Linked DNA regions of Homo sapiens: regions 2 and 3 are each reported to be linked to region 1. Evidence: microRNA targets listed by miRTarBase, many of them from high-throughput screens and not tested one by one. Region 1 holds a microRNA gene; each other region holds the end of a gene's coding sequence.
Evidence for each region. The annotated mature microRNA hsa-miR-515-5p reads UUCUCCAAAAGAAAGCACUUUCUG and lies in region 1 at 1,874-1,897, opposite strand. An mRNA with a match to its seed (bases 2 to 7 or 8) in the 3' UTR can be bound and repressed. Matches are read on the target gene's strand: a 7mer-m8 pairs with bases 2 to 8, a 7mer-A1 pairs with bases 2 to 7 and ends in A, and an 8mer does both.

Region 2: miRTarBase lists TANGO2 as a target of hsa-miR-515-5p. Seed matches in the 3' UTR shown: 7mer-m8 at 2,676-2,682.
Region 3: the mRNA of RAB19 is a reported target of hsa-miR-515-5p. Seed matches in the 3' UTR shown: 7mer-A1 at 496-502.

The regions. Positions count from the first base shown.
Region 1 is chr19:53,677,565-53,680,912 of GRCh38, reverse strand. It overlaps MIR515-1 (microRNA 515-1), which reads right to left and starts at 1,910; the gene lies at 1,828-1,910. MIR519E (microRNA 519e) reads right to left here and starts at 973; the gene lies at 890-973. The region is part of intron 2 of LOC107985342 (a long non-coding RNA gene); the gene reads right to left. RefSeq lists an enhancer at 2,718-3,218.
Region 2 is chr22:20,064,357-20,067,356 of GRCh38, forward strand. It overlaps TANGO2 (transport and golgi organization 2 homolog), which reads left to right. Exons shown (of 9, transcript NM_152906.7): 9 at 186-2,808. The coding sequence ends at 306. Among named protein-coding and RNA genes, the nearest start is that of DGCR8, 14 kb to the right of the region's middle. RefSeq lists an enhancer at 1,752-2,252.
Region 3 is chr7:140,425,887-140,428,886 of GRCh38, forward strand. RAB19 (RAB19, member RAS oncogene family) reads left to right here. Exons shown (of 4, transcript NM_001008749.3): 4 at 1-2,088. The coding sequence ends at 264. Among named protein-coding and RNA genes, the nearest start is that of RAB19, 23 kb to the left of the region's middle.

The DNA of each region.
Region 1 (3,348 bases):
AAAAAAAAGAATATACTGTTTGCTCACATTAAAAATAACTCCTCACCGGGTGCGGTGGCTCATGCCTGTAATCCCAGCAGTTTGGGAGGCCGAGGCAGGTGGATTAGTTGAGGTCAGGAGTTTGAGACCAGCCGGACCAACATGGCAAAACCCCGATTCTACCAAAAGGACAAAAATTAGCCGGGGTGGCGGCATGCACCTGAAATCCCAGCTACTCAGGAGGCTGAGGCAGGAGAATCGCTTGAACCCGGAAGGCGTAGGTTGCAGTGAGCCGAGATCATGCCACTGCACTCCAGCCTGGGCGACAAGAATGAGACTCCATCTCAAACAAACAAACAAACAAACAAACAAAATTCCTACACACAAGTGCTTGCTTTGGCAGCACAAAAAAATACAAATAATAATTAAAAAAAAAAAAAAAAACACCCTGCAGTCCGAGCAGGGTGGCTCATGCCTGTAATCCCACCACTTTGGAAAGCAGAGGCGGGCAGATCACCTGAGGTCAGGAGTTCAAGACTAACCTGGCCAATGTGGTGAAACTCCATCTCTGCTAAAAATACAAAAATTAGCCAGGCGTGGTGGCACGTGCCTATAATACCAGCTACTTGGGAGGCCGAGGTTGCAGTGAGCAGAGAATGTGTCACTGCCTGCCCGCCTGGCCCACATAGTGAGACTCTGTCTCAAGAACAAAAACAACAAAAAAAGTAGGGGGGACCAACTAGCCTAAGAGGTCTAGGTTGGAAGCGCCACCGCACTCCTGCCCGGGCAACAGAAACCCTGTGTTGCAAAAAAACTAAACAAAAACAGAACCCCAACATCATGCAAGTCTGATGATAAGCACGCTCTGCAAATGCGTTACCAAGATCAGCATCAACTTCAACGTGGTTTTTCTCAAACAGTAACACTCTAAAAGGAGGCACTTTGTTTTCTTTCAAACAGAAAGTGCTCCCTTTTGGAGAATGACTGCATGAGATCTTCTCGCTCCAAAACTCTGGGTTTTTGTTGGAATTTTCCTTACCAGGTTAAAATGGACACAAAAATAAAGATGCATTCATTGTCCCTGTTTGCATGTTTTCTGGAATCCAGAACATAAACCCCTAAAAGGACCATCTCCAGTTCCTTGCTTCAAAGGCTCAGCAGGTTAGCCTTGTTCACGAAGGGGCAACCCTCCTGAGTATTGTCTCCAAAGAGAAAAAGCAAAGCCTACCACACATACCTTATATTTAACCAAGAGAATTGGGCTGGATTTCTAGAGAACAGCAATGGATTTTGAGCCATGTGTTCACTTGAGTTCCAGCACAGGGACACACAGTCCCGATGGGAGCAACCAAAATGGAATCTAAGATGATATTTAAGAATATACGTTGTGGGCCAGGCACAGTGGCTCATGCCTGTAATCCCAGCACTTTGCGAGGCCGAGGCAGGTGGATCACCTAAGGTCAGGAGTTCAAGACTAATCTGGCCATCATGATGAAACTCCGTCTCTGCTAAAAATACAAAAATTAGCCAGGCGTGGTGGCATGTGCCTGTAATACCAGCTACTCGGGAGGCAGAGGTTGCAGTGAGCAGAGAACATACCACTGCACTCCAGCCTGGGCCACAGAGAGAGACTGTCTCAAGAGAAAAAAAAGGGGGAGGGGGTGGGGGCAGGGACCAACTGAGCCCAAGAGGTCTAGGTTGGAAGTGTCACCGCACTCCAGCCTGGGCAAGAGACCCTGTGTTGCAAAAAAACTAAACAAAAACAGAACCCCAACATCATGCAAGTCTGATGATAAGCACGCTCTGCAAATGTGTTACCAAGATCAGCATCAACTTCAACGTGGTTTTTCTCAAACAGTAACGCTCCAAAAGAAGGCACTCTGCTTTCAGACAACAGAAAGTGCTTTCTTTTGGAGAATGACTGCATGAGATCTTCTCACTCCAAAACTCTGGGTTTTTTGTTGGAATTTACCTTACCAGATTAAAATGAACACAAAAATAAAGATGCATTCATTGGCCAGGCGCGGTGGCTCACGCCTGGAATCCCAACACTTTGGGAGGCTGGTCAAGAGACCACGACCATCCTGGCCAACATGGTGAAACTCCGTCTCTACTAAAAATACAACCATTTGCCGCCTGTGGTGGCATGTACCTGTAGTCCCAGCTACTCGGGAGGCTGAGGCAGGGGAATTACTTGAACCAGGAGGCAGAAGTTGCAGTGAGCCGAGATCGTGCCACTGCACTCCAGACTGGCAAGAGTAAGACTCCATCTCAAAAAAAAATAAAAATAAAAATAAAAAAGGTGCATTCATTGCCCCTGTTTGCATGTTTTATGGAATCCAGAACATAAACCCCTGAAAGGACCATCTCCAGTTCCTTGCTTCAAAGGCTTAGCAGGTTAGCCTTGTTCATCAAGGGGCAATCCTCCTGAGTTTTGTCCCCAAAGAGAAAAAGCAATGCCTACCACACATACCTTATCTTTAACCAAGAGAATTGGGCTGGATTTCTAAGGATGTTGAGCCAGTGTTCACTTGAGTTCCAGCACAGAAACACACAGTCCTGATGGGAACATCCAAAATGGAATCTAAGATAATGTTTAAGAATATACATTGTTGTACACACAAATACCCTCCAGGACAGACCACAGGCTAGGCCGTAAAAGCTCCTCAGTAAGATTTGACAGAGCTGGGGGGAAAAAAAGAATGTACATTGTCACACACACGAACATTCTTCAGGATAGACCACAGGCTAGGCTGTAAAACCTCAATAATTTTTTTTCTTGGAGACTAAGTTAGGAAAAACAAATGCCCACACCTAAACAACCAATCATTTCTAGTTCAAGTACATCTCAAGTATACTGTTGACCTGAAATAGAAAGTTAACCGGGTTTCCCTGCTCTGGGAAGCCCCCTTTGGTAATTCAGTTAAGGGTCTCCTTTGGAAGGTAATGGGTAGGAACATGGAGATGTCAGCCAAGGGAAGTGACTCTCAGGGATTTCTATGGATTATGCAGATGCCCTGCCAGATCCCAAACTTCCCCAAAAGATCCTAAGTCCAGGCAGGAAGGACCACTGGGGTCCAGAAACCAAATGAAGTGGCCCTGGGCAGGAGTCTCTGTTGTCAGATTCCATGACTAAGACAGCCAGGGAGCAGAGTGAAAATCCCAGGGGCTCTCTCTCCAGGAGACACCTGCTCCATCCAGATCAAACCCAAAATGTCCCCAGCCAGTGATGCCTGGCTCTCCTTTCCCCTCGGCTCATCCTGCCTGCATCGGTGCAGTGCCCTGACGTTCCCAGTCCAGAGGGTGGAGGTTGCAGTGAGGGGAGATCACAGACTGTCAGAGCCTTCCTCTCTCCTTGCCTATGCATGG
Region 2 (3,000 bases), not on the chromosome of region 1:
TCACACGCCACTGATGGCCCCTCATCATCCCCAAGACTGAGGCTGCTGCTCTCTGTGACTTGGCACAGCCTCCAGGCATGGGGTTCCTAACTCTACCTGCCTGCATTCTTGCCCTATTTGTGGCTGTGACAGGCAGGGCAGGGCTGAGGGACACCAGGTGAACGAGGGCCCCTGCTCTCTTTCAGAACCAACACTATCATCCTGGTAGATGCGGACGGCCACGTGACCTTCACTGAGCGTAGCATGATGGACAAGGACCTCTCCCACTGGGAGACCAGAACCTATGAGTTCACACTGCAGAGCTAACCCCACCTCTGGGCCTGGCCAGTGGGCTCCTGGGGGGCCCTGCCTTGAGGGGCACTGTGGACAGGAAACCTTCCTTTGCCATACTGCATTGCACTGCCCGTGGCTTGGCCAGCATCCCCCGGATCAGGGCCCTGTGGTTTGCGTGTTACCCATCTGTGTCCCCATGCCCAGTTCAGGGTCTGCCTTTATGCCAGTGAGGAGCAGCAGAGTCTGATACTAGGTCTAGGACCGGCCGAGGTATACCATGAACATGTGGATACACCTGAGCCCACTCTTGCACATGTACACAGGCACTCACATGGCACACACATACACTCCTGCGTGTGCACAAGCACACACATGCAAGCCATATACATGGACACCGACACAGGCACATGTACGTGCACAGGTGTGCTACACATGTGCACACATGCACAGTTGCACAGACACACACACACAGGTGCACACACACGATGCCGAACAAGGCAGAAGGGCGACTCTCACCTCTCATGTGCTTCTGGCCAGTAGGTCTTTGTTCTGGTCCAACGACAGGAGTAGGCTTGTATTTAAAAGCGGCCCCTCCTCTCCTGTGGCCACAGAACACAGGCGTGCTTGGACTCTTGACAAGCAGACCTGCTCCTGCAGAGGAGACAGCCACATTTGGAATTGGGCACCGAGAAGACCTGAGAAAAACCCACTCTCTCTTTTTTTTTTTTTTGAGACGGAGTCTTGCTCTGTCACCCAGGCTGGAGTGCAGTGGCACGATCTCGGCTCACTGCAACCTCCGCCTCCCAAGTTCAAGCAATTCTCCTGCCCCAGCCTCCTGATTAGCTGGGATTACAGGCGTGTGCCACCATGCCCAGCTAATTTTTGTGTTTTTAGTAGAGACGGGGTTTCACCATGTTGGTCAGGCTGGTCTTGAACTCCTGACGTGGTGATCCACCTGCCTCGGCCTCCCAAAGTGCTGGGATTACAGGCGTGAGCCACCACGCCTGGCCGAAAAACCCACTCTCATAACAGAAGTGCAGACTCATTGCTAGATTCAGTGCCCTTGAGTGTGCCAGAGGTCCTCTGTGTTTGAGACAATCCTGTGTGTGCCAGGAGGCTCCGTGTGCACCAGGGGCTCTCAGAATCCCGCTTACCCAGCTGGAGACCATGCCTCTGGCAGCCCCATCTCAGCCAGCCCTGCTCTCTCCCTCTTCCCTCCAGGTGAGGCAAACTTCATAGGAATCTGTACCTGAATGTGAGCTCCTGATAATAAAACTCTGAGGCTTTGGTGAGCGCATTTCGAGGCCTTTCCCTTGTATGCAGGGTGCCAGTGGGAGCTGCTATGTCTCCTGTGCAGCCAGACACCCTGGACGAGGCCCTTCCCACCTCCCCCTTTCCTCACGGCTTCTTCAGCACCACATGTGGATGCCTGTGGGTCAGTCCATCTGTCCATGGGCAGGGGCCGCTGTGAGAGACCCCATGCGCGTGGGATGTGGTAGATGCTGATTATGGGGCCAGCCACCCATACAGGTCTATCAGGTCGCAATGGAGGCCCCACTGGAGCGGGAGGCAGGCTGGCCTGGACTTCTGTTGGATGATGGGGGCCAGGGGATGGTAGGAGGGGCAGGAGAGCAGGTCTGCATCTGTCTCAGCCCCAGGAGCTCCTGGTTTGGGGCCAGCTCTAAGGAGCTTCATCCCTGAGCCTGGCCGAGTATAAGGGGGTCCCGGATATCCAATGCTGAGACCTAGACTTTTCTAAGCCTCTGCACCCAACCCCTAACTTGGCCTTTTCAGACCCATGAGAGTGCAGGGTGGGTGTGGACCTGCGCCAGGGCTTCCCAGCCTGATTGTGACATGATGTGAGTCCACCTAGGGAGGAGCAGGGGCCTCCCCGTCTCTTCCCCTTCTTGCCCAGACCACTTTGCTGGGCTCAGAGCCTTCCATGGCTCACTTTGAACTCAGAAGAGTTTCCCAGCTGCGACCCAGGCTGCACCCCCAGGCCTGAGGAGAAACTGAGGCCCCACATCCCATACGTGTCCTCTGAGTCAGGACAACAGGCTCCCGGCTGGGGGCACTGCCCTTGCTGCCAACACATTCACCTGCCCCAGTGGCTACCATGTCCTGTGCCGGTGACCAGTGCCAGTCCCCAACCTGGATGGTGCCCTGCCCTCATGAAGAGCCCCCCGGATGTTCACCTCTGCCCAGAGACCCGGCCTGCCCAGGAAGAGCAGTCTCTGCTCTTGTGTGGGTCCCTCTGCCCCCACCCTGCCCAGGGCTCCCCAGCAGCCTGAGGCCCCTAAGGAAGAACAGCCCTCAATGGTGATTCTATTGGTGTTATGAGTTGTGTCCCCAAAGAGATATATCAGTGTCCTGACCCACAGTACCTCAGAATGTGACTGCATTTGGAGATAGGGTTCTTCCAGGGGTAACCAAGGTAGAATGAGGTCGTTAGTGTGGGCCCTAATCCAATATGACGGCTATCCTTATAAAAAGAGGAACATTTAGGCTGGATACAGTGGCTCATGCCTATAATCCCAGCACCTTGGGAGGCTGAGGCAGGAGGACTGCTTGAGCTCAGGAGTTCAAGACCAGCCTGGGGCAACATGTCGAAACGCTGTGTCTACCAAAAAAAAAAAAAAAAAATACAAAAATTAGCTGGCCATTGTGACTCACACCTGTAGTGCGAGGCTGAGGTGGGAGAATCGCTTGAACCCAGGAGGCAGAGGT
Region 3 (3,000 bases), not on the chromosome of region 1:
AAATGTGACCTCTGGGAAAAGCGGCACGTCCTGTTCGAGGATGCCTGCACACTGGCTGAGAAGTACGGCCTCCTGGCCGTTTTGGAGACATCTGCCAAGGAGTCAAAGAACATAGAAGAAGTCTTCGTGCTCATGGCCAAGGAGCTGATCGCGCGCAACAGCCTGCACCTATATGGGGAGAGTGCCCTGAACGGCCTCCCCCTGGACTCCAGCCCCGTTCTTATGGCCCAGGGTCCAAGTGAAAAGACCCACTGCACTTGCTAAGATGTTTGCAAAGCCAGTTGCACCCACCAAAGAGGCCGCCTCTGAAACCAAAGGTAGCCAGGATACCGTAGTGTTGCCCCAGTGGCGCTTTAGACCCCAGCGTGGACTTGCCGCTCACCCCTAATCCTCCCAGTCTGGATGGGCCACACTTCTCCCTTGACTCACACCACAGGTCATAGCTGCTGACTCTCAGGAAAACCAGCACCATTGTTTTCACTGACTCTTGACTCCTGGAGAAGGCAGGACTTCAGGCTAGGAGAGGGAGGACGAAGTGTACTCTTCTCCCCTTTCACTTTTCTGTCTCCCTAGAGCTTCTGCTGCTTTCTACTGAATTTTGTTTCTTGCTTGAAGAAGAGGGTAGTGAAGGAAAGGAGGAAGGCAAAACAGCAAGAGAGAGAAGAGGCTGTTTGGAACATTCTGGAACAGTTTGAAACAGCTCAGGCAGGGAGAATGGAACGAAAGCCTGCAATGAGAAACCAGAATGCTGCTATCATTTTGTTCCTGACATTCACACCTCAGGTCTTCACTTTGGGGAGCGAAGCCTTTTAGCAGAAATACCAGAAGTACCATCTTGCCAAATGGTCAGGAACTGTCTGATAGAGATGGAACTGGAATTCACTCTATTCTAGCAGGGCTGACTTGGCCACCCTCTTGGGATAGGGGAAGACACCTGCAATTTTTTTTCTTTCTTTTTTTTTTTTTTTTTTTTGAGACAGGGTCATACTCTGTCACCCAAGCTGGAGTATAGTGGTGGGATCTTGGCTCACTGCAACCTCTACCTCCTGGGTTCAAGAGGTTCTCCCACCTCAGTCTCCCAAGTGGCTGGGACTACAGACACACGCCACCACTCCTGGCTAATTTTTGTATTTTTTGTAGAGACAAGGTTTCACCATGTTGCTCAGGCTGATCTTGAACTCCTGAGCTCAGGTGATCTGCCCACCTTGGCTTCCCAAAGTGCTGGGATTACAGGCATGAGCCACCATGCCTGTTCTTTTTTTTTTTTTTTTTTTTTGAGACTGAGTCTCACTCTGTCACTCAGGCTGGAATGCAGTGGCATGATCTCGGCTCACTGCAACCTCAACCTCCACCTCCTGGGTTCAAGCAATTCTCCTGCCTCAGCCTCCCAAGTAGCTGGGACTACTGGCACTCACTACCACGCCCAGCTCATTTTTTTTGTATATTTAGTAGAGACTGGGTTTCACTACGTTGGTCAGGCTGGTCTTGAACTCCTGACCTCATGATCCACCCGTCTCGGCCTCCTAAAGTGCTGGGATTACAGGCATGAGCCACCATGCCCGGCCCTTTTTTTTTTTTTTTTGAGACAGAGTTTCGCTCTTGTTGCCCAGGCTGGAGTGCAATGGTGTGACCTCGGCTCACTGCAACTTCTGCCTTCCAGATTCAAGTGATTCTCCTGCCTCAACCTCCCTAGTAGCTGGGATTACAGCCTCCCGCCACCACGCCTAGCTAATTTTTGTGTTTTTAGTAGAGGCAGGGTTTCACCACGTTGGCCAGGCTGGTCTCGAACTCCTGACCTCATGATCCACCTGTCTCGTGGCCTCCCAAAGTGCTGGGATTACAGGTGTGAACCACCGCACCTGGCCTTTTTTTATTATTATTATTGTAGAAATGAAGTCTTGCTACGTTGCCCAGGCTGGTCTCCAATTCCTGAGCTCACAGGTTTCTCCCACCTCAGCCTCCCAAAGTGCTGGGATTACAGGCATGAGCCACCATGCCTGGCACAATTTCTTTCTAGAACCCAAATCATCTGCCAGATCAGAAGTCATTTTTAAATTAAAATTAAATTGGTTCATAGATGAATATCAAGCCAGTGTTGTACTGCCCCTTCTGTAAGATATGGCCAGAGAGCAGCTGGTGCCTTCTGGGATGGAGTAACTGCGGCTTTCAGAACTAAACACGTAAGAGGAGGCTGGAAGTCACCAGGCACCCCTCGTTTCCAGGACTGTGTTAGGGGACATCAGGGCAGGCAGCAGGAGCAGGCCACGGAGCCCCTCCAGGGTCCCAGGGAACTGTGGACACTCACCTGGGGCTTCCGGAGGACAAACACCACTTATGATTGCAGCTGACATTTACTGAGCTGCTTCTCATGGCCAGAAGTTGTGTGAGGTCTGGGGAAAGCAAATGGTCCCTTTGGTTTGTGATGCCAGTGGAGGGGAAAAGAGGTACCAGCCGCATTCTGCTGCTCCTCTTTTTTTTTGAGACGGAGTCTCGCTCTGTCACCCAGGCTGGAGTGCAATGGTGTGATCTTGGCTCACTGCAACCTCCACCTCCCAGGTTCAAGTGATTCTCCTGCCTCAGCCTCCCGAGTAGCTGGGATTACGGGGGTATACCACCACACCTGGATAATTTTTGTATTTTTAGTAGAGACAGGGTTTCACCATGTTGGTCAGGCTGGTCTTGAACTCCTGACCTCAGGTGATCCACCTGCCTCAGCCTCCCAAAGTGCTGGAATTACAGGCTTGAGCCACTGCACCTGGCCTGCTGCTCCTCTTAACACCCTTGGACTTCCTGGCATCCTCTCATCCAGCAGTAGCTCTCAGTTCCCCCTTTCCCTGCGCCACATTTTTTTTTTTTTTTTTTGAGGCAGCGTCTCACTCTGTTGCCCAAGTTAGAGTGCAGTGGTGTCATCTCAGCTCACTGCAACCTCCACCTCCCAGGTTCAAGCGATTCTCCTGCCTCAGCCTCCTGAGTAGCTGGGACTACAGGCGCATGCCACCA